2 linked regions of the Homo sapiens genome follow. The protein of the gene in region 1 interacts with the protein of each later gene in a biochemical or structural test. Each region holds a gene or a part of one and is shown in the gene's direction. Other genes may lie near its edges.

Evidence for each region.
Region 2: of the proteins of USP48 (region 1) and GLI1, one has a biochemical effect on the other in vitro, tested with the Homo sapiens proteins (one study listed by BioGRID).

Annotation. Positions count from the first base shown.
Region 1 is NC_000001.11:21,780,150-21,788,746, reverse strand, and holds the start of USP48 (ubiquitin carboxyl-terminal hydrolase 48), read left to right. Parts: upstream 1-5,597; 5' UTR 5,598-5,789; coding exon 5,790-5,923; intron 5,924-8,597.
Region 2 is NC_000012.12:57,452,776-57,464,861, forward strand, and holds the start of GLI1 (zinc finger protein GLI1), read left to right. Parts: upstream 1-7,009; 5' UTR 7,010-7,426; intron 7,427-7,501; exon of another isoform or gene 7,502-7,780; intron 7,781-9,967; exon of another isoform or gene 9,968-10,197; intron 10,198-10,889; 5' UTR 10,890-10,916; coding exon 10,917-11,016; intron 11,017-11,223; coding exon 11,224-11,316; intron 11,317-11,897; coding exon 11,898-12,086. Other genes in the region: INHBE (inhibin beta E chain preproprotein), read left to right, coding at 2,762-3,059, 3,319-4,073. UniProt on the Homo sapiens protein: Acts as a transcriptional activator. Binds to the DNA consensus sequence 5'-GACCACCCA-3'. Regulates the transcription of specific genes during normal development.

The DNA of each region.
Region 1 (8,597 bases):
GTCTGGAGATGTGAATTTAGGAGTCATCCACACACAGCAGGAGGAGATGAGATTGTAAAAAGTAAAGTAGAGATTCCTCTTCAAAGAGACTTTCCTCCCCATCTAATTAGGAATAAATAGTTACTTCTCAGCCCAGGCGTGGTGGCTCACGCCTGTAATCCTAGCACTTTGGGAGGCTGAGGTGGGCGGATCACCTGAGGTCAGGAGTGCAAGACCAGCCTGACCAATGTGGAGAAATCCCGTCTCTACTAAAAAAATACAAAATTGGCCGGGCATGGTGGCACATGCCTGTAATCCCAGCTACTCGGGTGGCTAAGGCAGGAGAATCGCCTGAACCCGGGAGGCAGAGGTTGTGGTGAGCGGAGATTGCGCCATCCAGCCTGGGCAACAAGAGTGAAACTCCGTCTCAAAATGTATTCAAAGACCTGTGCTAACATTCTTAAATATCTGCTAGCCGTAATAAAGAAATCAATGTACTTTATGTTCTTAGCTCCCACAATTTAGCCTAAATATTTGCCCTGGCATGCTTACACTGGTCCAAGCAAGCATGAGTCATAGCCTGTTCCTCTTCCTTATTTAAAGGTGTTTTTACCTTTCTCAGCATTCCACAGGTTACTTCCCTTGTTCGCCTCTGCCTCTGCTTTTTTTTTTCCTTTTTTTTGAGACAGAATTTCACTCTTGTTGCCCAAGCTGGAGTGCAATGCATGATCTTGGCTCACCGCAACCTCCACCTCCCAGGTTCAAGCGATTCTCCTGCCTCAGCCTCCCGATAGCTGGGATTACAGACATGCGCCACCACGCCCGGCTAATTTTTTTTTGCATTTTTAGTAGAGGCAGGGTTTCTCCATGTTGGTCAGGCTGGTCTCGAACTCCTGACCTCAGGTGATCCGCCCCCCTCAGCCTCCCAAAGTGCTGGGATTACAGGTGTGAGCCACTGCACCCAGCCAGCCTTTGCCTCTTTTAAAAAGTTCTAAGTTGCTAGCCAATCAGGACAAATATAGAATGTGAGGTCCTGTTCCAGCCAATGGAAGTCAGACACAGCAGTAGGGTGGACGCTTCAGGTTATAAATGACCCTGTCCTGTTTGTTCAGTGTACTCTACTGGCAAAACTGCTGGCGAGTGTACCCTTTCTGCAGAAAGTAAAAATGGCCTTGCTGAGGATGTTAAATTTATGTTCAAGTGCTATTTGTTTTTTGTTGTTTTTTTTTTAGATGAAGTCTCGCTCTGTCGCCAGGCTGGAGTGCAGTGGCACAATCTTGGCTCCCTGCAACCGCTGCCTCCCAGGTTCAAGCGATTCTCCTGCCTCAGCCTCCTGAGTAGCTAGGACTACAGGCGTGTGCCACCATGCCCAGCTAATTTTTTGTATTTTTTGTAGAGACGGGGTTTCACCATGTTGGCCAGGATGGTCTTGATCTCTTGACCTCATGATCTGCCTGCCTCGGCCTCCCAAAGTGCTGGGATTACAGGTGTGAGCCACCGCGCCCGGCCGTAAGTGCTACTTCTTTACGGCACTGGGGAACAAGCATTTCTAACAAGATCCCCCAGGGAGTAAACAAAGTTAAAGGAGAGGTCCAAAGGACTGAACCCTAGGCCACTCAAGTTTCCAGGTTAGAGGAGAAAGAAGCTGCAAAGGACACCGGAAGGGATGGCCAGCAGTAAAGAGAAAACCAGGAGAGTGTGGCACCCTGTGATTTAAGAGAAGAAAGTGTTTCTAAGAGGAAAGAGTGAATAACTGGGTCAATTGCTGCTAACAGGTCTAGTAAAATAAATAGAGTATGAGTTTACCACTGCATTTAACAAGGTGAAGGCCATTGGCATTCTTCATACGAGCAGTTTTGGAGGTGATAGAGGCAAGAACCTGATTTGGGAGGTTTAAGGAGGAATAGGAGGAGAACTGGAGAAGAGTACAGAAAATGCTTTCCAGGAGTTTTGCTATAAAGGGAAAAAGAGAAATGGGACAGTAGCTGGAGGGGGATGTGGGAGTCAAGAGAGGGTTTGTTAAACTTCAGAGAAATTACAGCAAATTAGCACATTTGGGTTTTGTTTGTTTGTTTTTGAGACAGGGTCTCCCTCTGTCGCCCAGACTGGAGTGCAGTGGTGAGATCTCTGCTCACTGCAACCTCGACCTCCTGGGCTCAAGCAATCCCTCCACTTCAGCCTTCTGAGTAGCTGGGACTACAGGTGCCTACCACCACACCTGGCAAATTTTTGTATTTTTGTAGAGACAGGGTTTCACCATGTTGCCCAAGCTGGTCTCGAACTCCTGACCTCAGATGATCTGTCCACCTCGGCCTCCCAAAGTGCTGGATTACAGGCGTGAGCTACCGTGCCTGGCCGAAATCATCTTCTTTCTAAATCTGTTCCTTCTTCTGGTGTTGCTATCTCATTTGGTAGAAATTCTATTTAATTATCCAATTTAGAAAACTGCCATATAGTAGTGTCTTCATGGTGAATGATAGTCACAATTTCATCATGTGCTAAGTGAAGCAAGGGATGACACAGGGAGCTGTGGATACTGAGGAAAGGGGTGTGACCAGACTTGAAGGTCAAATATCAGAAAGGTGAAGATATACCGGTCAGGTCAACATCATCAAGCTGTAGCAAGTCCTCATTCTGTCCAAGGCGTTTGAACCAGAGTGACTCTATCTTGAATGGGGGCTGGGTAAAATAAGGCTGAGACCTACTGGGCTGCATTCCCAGGAGGTGAAGACATTTTTTTTGCCTGAGTTTCCCACCGTCGCCTGGGATGGAGTGCAATGCCACGATCTTGGCTCACTGTAACCTCCGCCTCCTGTTCAAGCAATTGTCCTGCCTCAGCCTCCTGAGTAGCTGGGATTACAGGTGCCCGCCACCATGCCTGGCTAATTTTTGTATTTTTAGTAGACCCAGGGTTTCACTATGTTGGCCAGGCTCATCTCGAACTCCTGACCTCGTGATCCGCCCACCTTGGCCTCCTAAAGTGCTGGGATTACAGGCATGAGCCACCATGCCTGGCCTAAGGCATTCTTAGACACAGGATGAGATAGGAGGTCTACACAAGATACAGGTCATAAAGACATTGCTGAGAAAACAGAATGCAGTAAAGAAGCTGGTTAAAACCCACCAAAACCAAGATGGCCATGAGACTGACCTCTGGTCGTCCTCACTGCTTATTATATGCTAATTATTATACGCTAATTATTATACATTAGCATGCTAAAAGACATGCCCACCAGTGCATGACAGGTTACAAATGCCATGGCAAAGTCAGGAAGTTACCCTATATGGTCTAAAAAGGGGAGGAGGCCAGGCGCGGTAGCTCACACCTGTAATCCCAGCACTTTGAGAGGCCGAGGTGGGCGGATCACCTGAAGTCCGGAGTTCGAGACCAGCCTGACCAACATAGTGAAACCCCGTCTCTACTAAAAAATACAAAAAAATTAGGCGGGCGTGGTGGCAAAAGCCTGTAATCCTAGCTACTTGGGAGGTTGAGGCAGGAGAATCGCTTGAACCCAGGAGGCGGAGGTTGCAGTGAGCCCAGACCACACCATTGCACTCCAGCCTGGGCAACAAGAGCAAAACTCCGTCTCAGGAAAAAAAAAAGTCTTCTCTGCCTCACTATACAAAATGCAAATCTCCATTATAGCACTCAACAGCTGTATATCTTCAGTGGGTACTTTGAATAAAGGTCTTCCTTTTTTTGTTTTTTTTTTTGTTGTTATTGTTGTTTTATTGTTGTTGTTATTGTTGTTTTGTTTTGTTTTTGTTTTTTTTTTGGAGACAGAGTCTCGCTCAGTCGCCCAGGCCGGAGGGCAGTGGCGCGATCTCCGCTCACTGTAAGCTCCGCCTCCTGGGTTCCCGCCCTTCTCCTGCCTCAGCCTCCAGAGTAGCTGGGACTACAGGCGCCCGCCACTACGCCCGGCTATTTTTTTTGTATTTTTAGTAGAGAGGGGGTTTCACCGTGTTAGCCAGGATGGTCTCGATCTCCTGATCTCGTGATCCGCCCGCCTTGGCCTCCCAAAGTGCTGGGATTACAGGCGTGAGCCACCGCGCCCGGCGGCAAGGTCTTCCTTTCAAGCCATAACTCTCACCTGTCCCTGTCTCAGAAATTGTGGCCCTCTCACGCCAAGCTTTTCTCTTCTGTGCCTTTGCTCCTTGTGGTTTCTTTTTTTCTGGAATGGTGTCTTTCTTCTATCCTGGATAAGTCCAACTCACCCGTTAAAAGCGGGCTTCGGAATTACTTCTGGGAAGCCTTTTCTCAAGTACCCCGAAGCCTCCCAAGACTGGGATGGGGATCTTTGTATTTCTACCGCTCACTCCCTAACCCACTTCCAAGGGCAGGGACCACATCTTACTTTCTTCTGCCTTCAGCGAATTTTTTTGTTTTTTTTGAGACGGAGTTTTACTCTTGTTGCCCAGGCTGGAGTGCAATGGCGTTATCTCGGCTAACCACAACCTCCGCCTCCCGGGTTCAAGCGATTCTCCTGCCTCTGCCTCCCGACTAGCTGGGATTACAGGCATGCGCGACCGCGCCTTGCTAATTTTGTATTTTTAGTAGAGACGGGGTTTCTCCATTTTGGTCAGGCTGGCCTCGAACTCCTGACCTCAGGTGATCCGCCCACCTCGGCCTCCCAAAGTGCTGGGATTGGATCCTTGAGCCACGGTGCTCGGCCCAGTGAATGTTTATCTAAAGAATTCAGCCTAAGGTTTTCCAGCAGGCAAGCAGCTGAGTCAGAAGTTAGCGCTTAGATTCTGGCAGAGCTCTAATTCAAATTCAAAATTCTTAAATATCCTCACTTTAGTAGAGTTCTTTACAGTTTGCAAAACAATTCTCATAAAGCTACTCTTTATGTCCTGGGGCAGGAGTCGCAGAAAGGAAATGTTTTAAACCAGGAGCTAGAGAGGAACTAGAAAATCCTGGCATAGAGGTAACAGTCTTGAGAAGGGAGCCAACAGCAAACATGACCTTGCGCACCAGAGAAACTCCACCCTGGCACCTCGGACCCCCGCCCGCACAGTCTGCGGCGCACTGAGCACTCCCACCTCGAAGACTACAAATCCCAGCATGCCTCACAGTCAGTGGCAGGACGCAGGGCATGCCGGGACACGTAGTCCCACCCTAGCACGGGAAAAGGCCGGAAGGTCCCATGACGTCAGGAGGGCTCGGGAAAGGGGTTCGGAACCGGTCTAGGCTCAAGTTAAATCTCCCTCTAAAGAGCCAACACTGGTTTCTTTGGCGACTCGGTTTCTACTCTAAACAGGTCCCGCTCCACAGTCTGGGCGGGCCTGTGTGTGCGTTGAGTAGCCTCTAGCGTGAAAACTTCATGGTTAAAAGGGAAGTACCGGAGGCAAGAAATAGCTTTCGAGGCACTGGTTTGTTAGAGTAGTGGTACGTAGTGCGCCGCCCTGAACGGGGGCTGAGACGCTGCTTTTCCAGAAGTGCCAGTGAGGACGTGGCAAGACCGCCTCGGACGTACGCTTCCTCTACCTCAGCCCGTCGGGTTAGGGGCGCGGGAGGCGCAGAGGCTGCTGGGAACGCGCATGCGCTCAGCGCGGCGGGGAGTCCACCTTTAACGTCCGCGGGCGCGGGGTGTGTCGGGTGTCGACGGCGGCGCTTTGCGGCCGGTCGTGCGGGTCGGGCGCGGGCGGGCGCGGCGGCAGTGGCGCGCACAGGTGATTGACTGGCCAGCTGCCTGAAGGAGCGCCAGGTCCTCCTTGCTGGCAGGTGGCGAAGCCCATTGGGGCGGCGGTGCAGACCGCGGCGGCGGCTGCGGCGGTCTGGCTCGGGAGGCGTTCCTGGGGCCAAGGCCATGGCCCCGCGGCTGCAGCTGGAGAAGGCGGCCTGGCGCTGGGCGGAGACGGTGCGGCCCGAGGAGGTGTCGCAGGAGCACATCGAGACCGCTTACCGCATCTGGCTGGAGCCCTGCATTCGCGGCGTGTGCAGGTGAGGCCCGCGCACCGCGCCTCGCGGGCTCCTCGCGCCGGACCTTGGAAAGCCCGGGCGGGGTAGGGGAAAGGAAGACGGCAGCCCTTTGCGTGCATTTGGGAGGCGCGGAGCCGAGCGAGGTGGAGTTTCCCCCTTTGCGCCGTCTGCGCGACCTGGGAAACGCAGGCTTCCCGGGCTGTGCGCGGAGGTGATGCTGGCCAAAGCACTTTAGGAAGGTTTGGGTTCCCATCCAGAAGATGGCGGTGGAGATGAAGGCAGGAGCTGAGAGCTTAGCAAGCGTTGATGGTTGGGGTATCTTGGCCACAGCACGGCTCTTTCGTTTGTAAAAAGGAACTTTTTGGAAGTGAGCTTCATCACAGTGTATCTTGTTGGTGTTGACACCGAAGGCCTGATCATCTTAGTATTATTTTTGTAGAGGGCAGCTTTAGAAAAAACTGTGGTCAGCCTACGTCATCGATACCCTGCACCCCCGTTGGCCTTCCCTCACTCGTTAATCTAGTATTTTTTTTAAGCCTTTCTTTGGTCGTTCTGGTTCGACACCAGTTTACCGAGTACCAAGTTTAAGCTGTGATAGTGCTGTCCTTCACGTCTGCGCCGCCCTTGAACTTTACCTTTCCTTAACCCCCTCATATAGATTGAATCCTTAGGCTTTGCTCCCGTTTATTCCCTTTTTTCCACCTTGTAACGCGGGAACTATAGTTTTTGTTTCAGAATGTTGTTGAAATTGACTTGGCCAAGCCGGGCATGCTCAGTAGCCGTCTTTCGGCAGGCATTTAGGAAATGCTTTCTGGAGTTTTTACATTCCGCTGGGGGATCCGGAAGGAATGGAAGTCATGGTCTCTGGCTTTGGAGCTTAAAGTCTAGTATGAGAAGTGAAATAAGTTAGGGAGTTTCTATAAAGCAAACGAATAAGTCCAAGCTCTGGGCGTCTGTCTCACAAGGAGGGTAAATCTGACTTTAACAGTAAGTTCTGGAATGTTTGAAGTCTGTGTATAATAGAAATAATCAAGCTTCAGTCAGTTTCTCAACGTAATTAGTTTCCAGACTAACCAAATAATGTAAACTACTAATAGTTCTGGTGGTTTTTGAGACAGGGTCTCACTCTGTCACACAGGCTGGAGTGCAGTGTCACGAGCTCGGCTCACTGCAACCTCCGTTTCCCAGGCTCAAGCGATCCTCCCACCTCGGCCTCCGGAGTAGCTGGGATTAGAGGCACGGGCCACCACGCCCGACTCAGTTTTGTATTTTTAGTGGAGACGGGTTTTCGCCATGTTGGCCAGGCTGGTCTCGAGCTCTGGGCTCAAGCGATCTGCCCACCTCTTCTGGGATTACAGGCGTGAGCCACCATGCTGGGCCAATTTCTGATATTTATTTATTTATTGAGACGGTGTTTCGCTCTTATTGCCCAGGCTAGAGTGCAATGGCGTGATCTCGGCTCACTGCAACCTCTGCCTCCTTGGTTCAAGCGATTCTCCTGCCTCAGCCTCCTGAATAGCTGGGATTACAGGCATGCACCATCATGCCCGGCTAATTTTTTTTTATTATTTTTATTTTTTGTATTTTTAGTAGAGACAGGGTTTCTCCATGTTGGTCAGGCTGGTCTCGAACTCCTGACCTCAGATAATTTGACCGCCTTGGCCTCCCAAAGTGCTGGCATTACAGGCGTGAGCCACCGCCCGCCAGGCCGATACTTTTTTTTTTTTCGAGACAGCGTCGTGAGACGCTGGATAAATTTAAAAAAATAAATTTTTAAAATAAAAATTTTAAAAGAAAAAAGAATAGGCCGGGTGCGGTGGCTCATGCCTGTAATCCCAGCACTTTGGGAGGCCGAGATGGGCGGATCACGAGGTCAGGAGTTCGAGACCAGCCTGGCCAGCATGGTGAAACCCCGTCTCTACTAAAAATACAAAAATTAGCCGGGGGTGGTGGCGGGCGCCTGTAATCCCAGCTACTGGGGTGGCTGAGGCAGGAGAACCCTGGAACCCGGGAGGTGGAGGTTGCGGTGAGCCGAGATCACGCCACTGCACTCCAGCTTGGGCAACAGGGCGAGACTCAGTCTCAAAAAAAAAAAAAAAAAAAAAATTATCTTATCTTGGCTCTGTATGCCCTGTATGTTCCGCCTCTAAATTTCCCTATTCTGGACATTTCATATAAATGGAATCCTAAAATACGTGGACTTTTGTGACTGATTTCCTTTACTTATGTATTTAAGGGTCATCCATGTTGTAGCATGTTTCAGCACTTCATTTCATTAAAAAAATACCTGGGAAATACATATGACAGTGTTTACCATTTTAAAGTGCACAATTCGGTGGGTTTCAGTACCTTTATAGTGTTGTACAACCATCACCACTGTCTGGTTCCAGAACTTTTCATTATCCTAAAAGGAAACTGAGCATCTGTTAGTCACTTCCCATTTTCCCCCCTCGCCCAGCCCCTGGCAACTGCTAATCTACTTTCTGTCTCTGGATTTCTCTATTAATATTTCATAGCAATGGAATTATACAGTACGTGGCCATTTGTGTCTGGTTTCACTTAACGTAATGTTTCCAAGGGTTATCCCTGCTGCGCATGTGTCACTACTTTATTCCTTACGGCTGAGTAGTATTCCATTTTATGGATAATACCACATTTTATATATCTATTCATCAGTTGAGGGACATTTTGATTA
Region 2 (12,086 bases), on another chromosome or scaffold:
AGAGTGCCCTGAGGTTCTAGGAAGAGCCTGGTACATCACCAAGCTCCATTGCCACGTGTTTGTGTGATGAGGTCCAAAACCAAAGGTAGCAGTGATGTGGATCCTGAAGACAGTCTCTCTTCTCTGGCAGTGTGATGGGGAAAGAACAAAGGAACCAGCTTGTCCCTGTCTCTTGTGGGGGAGGCAGCGTCCCCAGAGTGAGAGGTCGAGGGGCACTCCTCATCACTCCATTCCCCAGAGCTGCCCCTTCCCTGTCCCTGGGAAGCTCCAGCCAGCTACAAGCCAGCTGCTGTCCAGAGGCACGGCACTGCCACATGGTGGACACTGGTGGTACTGAGGTCCAGCCTTCCAATTAGGAACCCTGTCGCCTAGATCTAATAGTCTCTCTTGACAGCCCCCATCATCTAAACAGAGGGGAGATGAGCAAAGTGGAGTAAAGACACATTTCCAAATCACACCCACTTCCCCCACAGCTTTCTCCCCATCAAGCTTCTTGGAGAAATTGGGGCATAAGGAGAAAAGCTAGCATGAGGCCCACCTTCATGAATTCAATGTGGAGGGGTCTGGGTCCCCCCCCATTTAAAGCCAGTGAGGACTGGGTGTGGTGGCTCATGTCTATAATCCTAGCGCCTTGGGACGCTGAGGTGAGAGGATCGCTTGAGCCCAGGAGCTTGAGACCACCCTGGGCAACACAGCAAGACCCTGTCTCTACAAAAGAATAAAAAATAAATTAGCCTGTGTGGTGTGGTGTGGTGTGGTTGGTGTGGTGGCACGCACCTGTAGACTTAGCTACTCTGGAAGCTGAGGTGGAAGAATCACTTAACCCAGGAGGTCAAGGCTGCAGTGAGCTGTGATCAGGCCACCACACTCCAGCCTGGATGACAGAGTAAGACCCTGTCTCAAAAACATAAAAAATAAAATAAAAAATAGGTCAGGTGCGGTGGCTCATGCCTGTAATCCCAGCACTTTGGGAGGCCGAGGCGGGCAGATCATGAGGTCGGGAGATGGAGACCATCCTGGCTAACACAGTGAAACCCCGTCTCTACTAAAAATGCAAAAAACTAGCCGGGCGTGGTGGCTGGCACCTGTAGTCCCAGCGACTCGGGAGGCTGAGGCAGAAGAATGGTGTGAACCCGGGAGGTGGAGCTTGCAGTGAGCCGAGATTGTGCCACTGCACTCCAGCCTGGGCGACAGAGCGAGACTCAGCCTCAAAAAATAAAATAAAATAAAATAAAATAAAGACAGTGAGAAAATGTGGTCAGGAGGGCTGAGACTGGGAACCAAGACTGCTGTATTTGCCTTGCTTTGTTGTCAAAAGCTCTTAGAGCTCCCATTTTCTACCCCCATTAACAGGCCTGAAGGGTGGTGCGGTGGCTCACGCCTGTAACCTCAGCACTTTAGGAGGCTGAGGCAAGTGGATTGCTTGAGCCCAGGAGTTCAAGACCAGCCTGGGCAACATAGCGAGACCCTGTCTCTGTGGGAAATTTAAAAATTAGCCAGGTGTGGTGGTGCGCACCTGTAGTCCCAACTACTAAGGAGGCTGAGGCAGAAGGATTGTCTGAGCCCAGGAATTCAAGGCTGCAGTGAGCTATGATTGTGCCACTACACTCCAGCCTGAACAACAGATTGAGACCTTACCTCAGTAAAATAAAATAAAATTTAAATTTTAAAAATGTAAGAAAAAAAGGAGGCCTGGCACTACTTCTAGGATGCCCCAAATTTAGGCAACTCTCACAGTCCCTTGAAAGAGAAGTGGCAGCTGGGTATAGGCCCTCCCAAGTGTCATGCCCCCTGACAGTCCTGATGGACTCTGCCCTGTGTAAGATTGCATCACCACCACCACCACCTCTCTGGGCTTCCCCAGACATCACAGGAACACGTTCCCCGCCCCAACCCCCGCCGGCTCTGGCCCTCCTCCACATCATGCTCCACATCATGCTCCAGGCCAACTGGACTCTGGGCGGCCAGCACAGGCAGGGTCAGGGGGTGACTTCTGTGCCTCGTGGCACTGCCACCTGGGCCTGAGCAAGAGGGCTCCATTCTCCTACCCGCCCAAACCCTCATCCCTGTCCTAGCCCCAGTGCTAGAAATAAAGAGACCAGAATTTTCCTTCTGGCCTAAGGGCCCCAGAGGAATACCCACTGGAACTCACAGCTGCCTCATGGAAACTGCTGCAGCAGTGGTGAAGCTAGAAAGACTAGAGGTATGAGGGAAAATTGCCCTTCCCCACCTGGCTCATAAGGCGTTCCCTCCCCCAAGTCCCAGACCTTGGGGACTGAGCATGTGAAATCATCCTCTTTCTTGCATCATGCGTGTCCACATTGCACCCCCCCACCCCCATACCCCTACTTCAGGCCCAGTCACCATGGCCAGATGGTGAAACCTGAGCTGATGGGGAGGAGGACCTCCACCCCCTGCAGGGGCCTGATGGGCAGCACAGCTGGCCAATCCTGGGACTCAGAGGGTAGGTCGGCTGGCTGACCACTAGGTTTGGAAGACCCAGGCAGCTGGCTCTAAAGAGGCCCCAGGTCAGTAGCCAGACATGAGCTGTGAGGGTCAAGCACAGCTATCCATCAGATGATCTACTTTCAGCCTTCCTGAGTCCCAGACAATAGAAGACAGGTGGCTGTACCCTTGGCCAAGGGTAGGTGTGGCAGTGGTGTCTGCTGTCACTGTGCCCTCATTGGCCCCCAGCAATCAGACTCAACAGACGGAGCAACTGCCATCCGAGGCTCCTGAACCAGGGCCATTCACCAGGAGCATGCGGCTCCCTGATGTCCAGCTCTGGCTGGTGCTGCTGTGGGCACTGGTGCGAGCACAGGGGACAGGGTCTGTGTGTCCCTCCTGTGGGGGCTCCAAACTGGCACCCCAAGCAGAACGAGCTCTGGTGCTGGAGCTAGCCAAGCAGCAAATCCTGGATGGGTTGCACCTGACCAGTCGTCCCAGAATAACTCATCCTCCACCCCAGGCAGCGCTGACCAGAGCCCTCCGGAGACTACAGCCAGGGAGTGTGGCTCCAGGGAATGGGGAGGAGGTCATCAGCTTTGCTACTGTCACAGGTGGGTGAGGGAGAGAGCAACAGGCAAAGAGCAGACAGGGAAAGGGAGGCAGAAGGGGAGCCTGGCAGGAGCAGCAGAGGGAGTGGGGTGTGGCAGGAGAAGGAGGAGCTGGGGCAGGGACTGGTTGCAGAGGACACAAAGCAGTCTCTACTTTTCTAGAGGTAGGTTCGAGGGAGAGCAGTGGGCAGGGCTTGGGGAGTCTCAGAGGAGAGCTTCATCTCTACTCACATTTTCTTTCCCTTTTCTGTCTTTCGGGCAGACTCCACTTCAGCCTACAGCTCCCTGCTCACTTTTCACCTGTCCACTCCTCGGTCCCACCACCTGTACCATGCCCGCCTGTGGCTGCACGTGCTCCCCACCCTTCCTGGCACTCTTTGCTTGAGGATCTTCCGATGGGGACCAAGGAGGAGGCGCCAAGGGTCCCGCACTCTCCTGGCTGAGCACCACATCACCAACCTGGGCTGGCATACCTTAACTCTGCCCTCTAGTGGCTTGAGGGGTGAGAAGTCTGGTGTCCTGAAACTGCAACTAGACTGCAGACCCCTAGAAGGCAACAGCACAGTTACTGGACAACCGAGGCGGCTCTTGGACACAGCAGGACACCAGCAGCCCTTCCTAGAGCTTAAGATCCGAGCCAATGAGCCTGGAGCAGGCCGGGCCAGGAGGAGGACCCCCACCTGTGAGCCTGCGACCCCCTTATGTTGCAGGCGAGACCATTACGTAGACTTCCAGGAACTGGGATGGCGGGACTGGATACTGCAGCCCGAGGGGTACCAGCTGAATTACTGCAGTGGGCAGTGCCCTCCCCACCTGGCTGGCAGCCCAGGCATTGCTGCCTCTTTCCATTCTGCCGTCTTCAGCCTCCTCAAAGCCAACAATCCTTGGCCTGCCAGTACCTCCTGTTGTGTCCCTACTGCCCGAAGGCCCCTCTCTCTCCTCTACCTGGATCATAATGGCAATGTGGTCAAGACGGATGTGCCAGATATGGTGGTGGAGGCCTGTGGCTGCAGCTAGCAAGAGGACCTGGGGCTTTGGAGTGAAGAGACCAAGATGAAGTTTCCCAGGCACAGGGCATCTGTGACTGGAGGCATCAGATTCCTGATCCACACCCCAACCCAACAACCACCTGGCAATATGACTCACTTGACCCCTATGGGACCCAAATGGGCACTTTCTTGTCTGAGACTCTGGCTTATTCCAGGTTGGCTGATGTGTTGGGAGATGGGTAAAGCGTTTCTTCTAAAGGGGTCTACCCAGAAAGCATGATTTCCTGCCCTAAGTCCTGTGAGAAGATGTCAGGGACTAGGGAGGGAGGGAGGGAAGGCAGAGAAAAATTACTTAGCCTCTCCCAAGATGAGAAAGTCCTCAAGTGAGGGGAGGAGGAAGCAGATAGATGGTCCAGCAGGCTTGAAGCAGGGTAAGCAGGCTGGCCCAGGGTAAGGGCTGTTGAGGTACCTTAAGGGAAGGTCAAGAGGGAGATGGGCAAGGCGCTGAGGGAGGATGCTTAGGGGACCCCCAGAAACAGGAGTCAGGAAAATGAGGCACTAAGCCTAAGAAGTTCCCTGGTTTTTCCCAGGGGACAGGACCCACTGGGAGACAAGCATTTATACTTTCTTTCTTCTTTTTTATTTTTTTGAGATCGAGTCTCGCTCTGTCACCAGGCTGGAGTGCAGTGACACGATCTTGGCTCACTGCAACCTCCGTCTCCTGGGTTCAAGTGATTCTTCTGCCTCAGCCTCCCGAGCAGCTGGGATTACAGGCGCCCACTAATTTTTGTATTCTTAGTAGAAACGAGGTTTCAACATGTTGGCCAGGATGGTCTCAATCTCTTGACCTCTTGATCCACCCGACTTGGCCTCCCGAAGTGATGAGATTATAGGCGTGAGCCACCGCGCCTGGCTTATACTTTCTTAATAAAAAGGAGAAAGAAAATCAACAAATGTGAGTCATAAAGAAGGGTTAGGGTGATGGTCCAGAGCAACAGTTCTTCAAGTGTACTCTGTAGGCTTCTGGGAGGTCCCTTTTCAGGGGTGTCCACAAAGTCAAAGCTATTTTCATAATAATACTAACATGTTATTTGCCTTTTGAATTCTCATTATCTTAAAATTGTATTGTGGAGTTTTCCAGAGGCCGTGTGACATGTGATTACATCATCTTTCTGACATCATTGTTAATGGAATGTGTGCTTGTATGGTCTTGTGTTACAGTCTTTTTCAGTTTTAATTTCTAATGTGGTGAATTGATAGATGTAAATCATATGAACAAAAGCTCAATGATTTTTTTTTTTTTGAGACGGAGTCTCGCTCTGTCGCCCAGGCTGGAGTGCAGTGGCACAATCTCGGCTCACTGCAACCTCCACCTCCCAGGTTCAAGCGATTCTCCTGCCTCAGCCTCCTGAGTAGCTGGGACTACAGGCCTGCGCCACCATGCCCAGCTATTTTTTGTATTTTTAGTAGAGATGGGGTTTCACCATGTTGGCCAGGCTGGTCTCGGACTCCTGACTTGAGGTGATCCGCCTGCCTTGGCCTCCCAAAGTGCTGGGATTACAGGTCTGAGCCACTGTGCCTAACCTAATGACTTTTAAGAGTATAGAGGAAACCAAAAAGTTTGAGACTCACTGGTCTATAGAACTGGGTGGGGAGAAGAAAGTAAGGTGTTCTAAGAGAGCTCTTCTTGCTGGGCACCGGTGGTCCCAGCTACTTAGGAGGCTAAGGCCGGAAGACCGCTTAAACCCAGGAGTTCGAGGCTATGATCACACTTGTGAATAGCCTCTGCACTCCAGCCTGGGCAAATAGTGAGGCCCCGTCCCAAATAAAAATAAATAAATACATAAATACATAAATAGCTCCTCTGGAAGAAGGGGCTCGAGGCTGGGACAGGAGCATGTGTGGGGTGCCTTTTTTTCAGTGCCCATTAGTCTGGTCTGACTGAGCTGGGTCTCTGACCCTCTGGGGATAACTAGCCTGGGTCAAAGTCCCAGATCTCCCCCTACCTTCACCTTTTCTTTTCCCCCTTGACCCTCAGACTGAACAGTTAACCCACTGACCTTCCACACCCAAGGGGGTGGTTCTTGGAAGCAGAGCTAGGATGTGGGAGGTCTGCCTGTGGGGTTGAAAAAAAGGGGAGAGGGTGCCCTTTTTCCTTGTCATGCTTCCTCCTCTTTCTCATAAAAATCAGAGACTGAAATGCTGCCCCTCCCTTATATCCGGTCACGATGGCAATGCAAATCTAAAGAGGCAGGGCACTTCCCTGTCAGGCAGTACCGCTGGGCATAGCAACCTCTGCCTCTCCGTTTCTCAGAGCTCACATATCCACCTCCTGGGCTTTTAAGTGGGCTTTAGTGAGGGGCTCCTCCTTCAACTGGGCTCCTCCTTCAGTTCCCCAGCTCTTCTGCTTCGACTCCGAGCGGGTGTCATGTGTGAGAACGGCCAGCAGAGGGAGCAGAAAGCCTGGAAGAGCAGCTAGAGCCTGCAGTGACGTGGTGCGGAGGGGCGGCACCCTCCAGAACTTCGAGACGTAGAGCCGGGGTTCTAGGGAAAGGGGCTTCAGTCCCAGGGCTCCTTGGTGACCTCGTGAACCACACCCTGCACCCAGAGCCTCAGCCGCTGCTCCTTGCTTTTATGCTCCATAGACTCCTCACCTTCTTCCAGAGCCCCCAACCCAACTTGATTTGCCCCAAACCGCAACTCTGTCCCGGCCGCTGCAAGTTCCATCCAAAGGGTGAGGCCTGCAGATAAACCACAGGATGGCAGAATGCTCAGTTAGCACCAACCAAAGGCGACTACCCTACCTCCACTATTATCGTTCTCGGTTGAACTTCTCCCCCTGCCCCGCAATATTTTCCTCAATCTGGTTGTCGGGGCCTCTTTGGGGCCAGCCGATCCAGAAATCCAAGCCGGGATTTAGTACTCACCAACAGCAGCGTGTTCAGCCGGGGCGGGGGGGGGGGCGTAAGCAGTATAGGGTCCCTCAAGGGAGGGGGAGGATCCTGGGGGTCCTGGGGGTGCAATAAGCCCGGCACCCCTTCTCTTGCTTCCAGCTACCCCGCCTCATCCTCCAGAACGGCAAGAGGGAGGGAAATAGAAGGGAGGTGAGGGGCGAGCGGGAAGAGCGGCGGCGCGCCAGCGGCTGGAGAGAGAAAAAGTTTTTGCAAAAGGGAAAAAAAAAGTTTGCGCTTCTCGCGGGTGGTCCGGGCTTGCGGCCCGGCGGGCTGGGCCGGCGGGAGGGCTGGGGGCCAGGTTGGGGGGGTGGGGGTGGCATCGAGGCTGCGCTGCCGTGGCCCTCTCCGCCCCCCCTCCCCACCGCACACCCCCCAGCCCAGACTCCAGCCCTGGACCGCGCATCCCGAGCCCAGCGCCCAGACAGAGGTGAGAAGGGGGGGCAGGCGGGGGACCACCTGGGAGCAGTGGGGGAGGGGGCCTGAGGGGATGCTCAGCTTCTTAGGGACTCATCCCAGACCCGGGACATAGAGGCAAAATAGGGGTGGGAGAGCCTGGGGTGAGACATTAGAAACTCCAGATTTTTCACTTGTGTCTTTCTCTGTATCTTCTTTTTCTTCCCTTTTTTTCTTCTGTCAGTCTGTGTATCTCTGTCTCAGGGAACCGTGGGTCTTTGTCTCCGCCTCTCCCATATATTAGAAATATCTTACTTTCATGCGGTTAAGTTTAAGAGGCTGGAGGGATGGCTAGCTGGAGGTCTGCGTTGTAGAGAGGTAACCCCAGGTGTGTGTCTGCGCGTGGGGTAGGAAGATGTCAGTGTTTCTGAAAGGTGGGGACTGCAAAGGAGGGAGCTCCAGGTGGGGTGGGGACGGGTGTGTGGGAGGCAACAGAGCCACTAGGGGCCAGCCAGGCTTGAACCTTTGACCTGTCTTGTGACAGATGTGCCAGTGGATGCTTGTGCTTTAGGGGAAAGGAGTGTCTTCTGGACTTGGAAGGGGGCTGGGGCGGGGGGGGGCTGTCCAAGGTCTAGTGAAGGCCCTAGAATGACCCCATGCAATTTGGACTCCTGAGTCCCAAGGGCTGTGGGCAAGGAGCTCAGGAGGAGCCGGGGAGACCTTGTCTTGACCCTCTGACCTCAGGACCACCGGGGCAGCGGGAGCCAGCCGCAGGGAGACCCCTACCGGGGCTGGGCGGGACCACTGGCCACTGCCAGCCTGTGTATCCCCGTTGGCACCCCGCCCAAACGGGAGCTGGGGATCGAGGCCCCTCCTCTGGCTCAGACCACCCTGCCTGCCCTTGCTCCCCGCTCTGAATCCTCTTTCAGGTCCCATGACCCCGAAACAATCAGCACTGGGCAGCTAGCTTTCGGGACAGGATTACGGAAAGGGGACCCCGTAGAGCCTGGGGACTGAGGGTTTTAGGGGTCTGGAGAGCTGGGGTCTTCTAGGATAGGTCTTTACGTTCCAGTAGAGGGAGAAGGCGGGCGGTTTCCCGGGGGATATGTAAGGGTCGGAATAAGTGTGGTTTTCCCTAGGGGGCGGGGTCCAGAGACCTCTCCCCCTCCACCATTATCTCCCTGGCATCCCCGCCCTTGACGTCACCAGGGGGTTCCCGGGGGTCTGGAGGGGTTAACCCTTGGGAAGCCGGCTGCTATAACCAGCAACCTAAGGTGTCCGGGCCCCTCCTCCTCCCCATACACACCTAATTTTATTGACCCAGTCACTTTCTCTGCTTTCTCTCCCCTATACTTTCTGGATTCTTCTCCCTTTCTAACCCCACCAACGGGGACCCCCACTCTCCAGTAGTGCCCCCCTGGGCGCCACTGCCTGCTTTCCGGATGTGCTGAGAGGAGGAGGGAAGAATGTGGCCCGCCCCTCAGCCCCCACCCCTATGGCTCGCTCTACTGGGCTCCCGGGGCGGGTGGGGGGAGCGGAGCCGTCTGCAGCCAGTGCCTGCGGCGGCGACTTGGGTGGGCCGAGGAGGCACGGGGGCGGGGAAGGCGGGACCGGGAGTAGGGGGGCGGAGCCGACTCCTGGGAGTTGGGGAGCGGGGGTGCGAGGGGGACGCTGGAAAACAGGGAGACACCGAAGATGGTTTAGGGCTCCGGCAGGGGAACCCTAGAGCTCCCTGTCCCATCCCGAACTCTCACACCCCAGAAAAACTTTACCGAAGCTAAAAAAGTTGGCGACATTTTCCTTTTACTAGCCTGAAGGGGAGATATGGGTGGGCTGTGGAACGCGTGGGCGAGGAGGGGTGTAGCCCCATTTCCTTGGAGGCTCTTCGGCAGCTAGGCAGTGGGGCAGAAAGATGACTGAGTAGGCAAGTTTGGGGGAGTCTCTAGTGTTTGGGGGATCATTTGCAAACTTCCCTCCTTCCCCTGGGTGAGTCATAGAGGGAAGGAGGCGGGAGAATTGTCCCCCCATCCAGCTGCCAACCAGCTGTGCCCCCCGCCCCCCAACATTAGTTCCAAGGTCGAGTTGGGAGGTCTTGGATGCGGGATCCGCACCTCGGTTGGAAAAGGAGGAGTTAGAAAAGGGTACAGCCCAGGCTGCCGGGCCGGGCTGGGTCGCGGGGTCCGGGTTCCGCTCCCCATCTCACCCCGCCCTCACCCTAAATCCCAGCATCCCGGGATCACCCACCGCGCCGGCCGGCCCGGCCCGCTCCCGGTGGTTCTCCACCCCATCCCGCCCCACCCCACCCTCATTCCCGGGAGACTGGAAAACCCGGGATGGAGTCAAAACTGGAGTTTGAAAAGAAAAACGGACAGCAGCACCTTCTTCCTCGCTACGCTTTTATAAGGATCACATTGTTTTTTTCATTCTCTCAGAGTCTCCCCTCATACTTCCTTTCCTGTTCCCCCAAAACAGAGACCAAAAAGATTAGGTGGGCCTGATTTAAACTACCCCAGAATAACACCAGCTTTCACCTTTGTGCCCAACAGACCCAGAAGACTCCCCTCAGGAACCTTACCTCCTCCTCCACACTGTTTTCTGTCTAAGAGGGCAGATGGCTTGTGCTCCCTCCTGGCCCCACCTGGCTCTGTGTCGGGACTGTGGCTAGGGCTCCCTCTGCTGGACACTGCAGAGATTGTACACGGGCTGTCCCTGGGGAGGGGCACGAGAAGGAAGGGGGAACGGGCTCTAGCAGAGCCGCCCAGTGCTTGAAGTCAGATCCATCACACGAGTTCTCCCATCCCACCCTCAAAGCCGGCCCAGGGTTACAGCAAGAAGAATTAGAGGGTCCATGTTACTAAAATCACTTGAAGTTAATATAGGCACAATTAGTCCAAAACATGCCTTCTACACACAGACCACACAGGCAAAGCTCCCACCCAGGCAAAGCTCCCACCCAGTTCCCAAGAAGATCCCCAGAGTACACAGACTACAAGACTGCCTCTGCCTCTCTGGGACATCATTTCCCCTTACCCCTCCCCTCACTCAGCGAGTGATGCTTTTTTTGTTTTGAGACGGAGTCTAGCTCTGTCACCCAGGCTGGAGTGCAGTGGCACCATCTCGGCTCACTGAAACCTCCGCCTCCCAGGTTCAAGCGATTCTTCTGCCTCAGCCTTCCGAGTAGCTGGGATTACAGGCACCCGCCATCATGACTGGCTAATTTTTGTTTTTTTGTAGAGACGGGGGTTTCACCATGTTGGCCAGGCTGGTCTTCAACTGACCTCAGGTGATCCTCCCGCCTCAGCCTCTCAAAGCGTTGGAATTACAGGCGTGAGCCACTGTGCCCGGCTCAGTGATGCTCTTTTCAACTCGAATTCCGTGGCAGATGTCTTAGAGGGGTGGGGGATACCAGGGATGTTCTGCCCAGGATTCTGTGCCTGAGACTGCTGTCTGACAGTCTCTATTTCCTCCACCTTTATACCTACCTTCCCTTTCTGCAGTGTCCCCACACCCTCCTCTGAGACGCCATGTTCAACTCGATGACCCCACCACCAATCAGTAGCTATGGCGAGCCCTGCTGTCTCCGGCCCCTCCCCAGTCAGGGGGCCCCCAGTGTGGGGACAGAAGGTCAGTGTATATACCAATCCCTGGGCCTTGAGGATTTGGCAGATCTCCCACTTGGGCCCACCCCCACCCCATGCCAGTTTCCTATCTACAGGAGGATTTGAGGCCCCATGTCATATGGACCTGGAATCTGGGATCAGGTCATGTCTGGGGTTTTAAGGTGAGGTTTATGTATCCTCCATTCCCATTCCAGCTGTCTCTTTTTTCTAGGACTGTCTGGCCCGCCCTTCTGCCACCAAGCTAACCTCATGTCCGGCCCCCACAGTTATGGGCCAGCCAGAGAGACCAACAGCTGCACCGAGGGTGAGGGCTCAGGCAACACCTCTTCCCTTTCTGCCCCTCTCTGACTTGTTCTGAAAGAGAAAGTGGGAGGGCAGGGGATCTCACTTGGAGGAGGAGATGCTTGGAGATGTGAGGCGTCAGAGCACCATCAAGAAGTCACAGATGGGGCCGGGCGCGGTGGCTCACGCCTGTAATCCCAGCACTTTGTGGGGAAGCCGTGGCAGGAAGATCGCTTGAGGTCGGGAATTCAAGACCAGCCAGGCCAACATGGTGAAACCCTGTCTCTACTAACAATACAAAAATTAGCCGGGCGTGGTGGCTTGCACCTGTAGTGCCGATTACAGGGGAGGCTGAGGCAGGAGAATCACTTGAACCTGGGAACGCAGAGGTTGCAGTGAGGCAAGATGGTGCCACGCACTCCAGCCTGGGTTACAGAGCATGACTCTGTGTCTCTCAAAAAAAAAAAAAAAAAGTCACAGATAGCATCAATAGGGCAAAGCAGAATCAAGTATCATTGGTTTTGCCAAGTCAGGACCCATAGGTTAGGTGCATGGAGAGACATGCCCCTTTACCATATCCGTCTCCGCTGTCTCCTGCCCCAGGCCCACTCTTTTCTTCTCCCCGGAGTGCAGTCAAGTTGACCAAGAAGCGGGCACTGTCCATCTCACCTCTGTCGGATGCCAGCCTGGACCTGCAGACGGTTATCCGCACCTCACCCAGCTCCCTCGTAGCTTTCATCAACTCGCGATGCACATCTCCAGGAGGCTCCTACGGTCATCTCTCCATTGGCA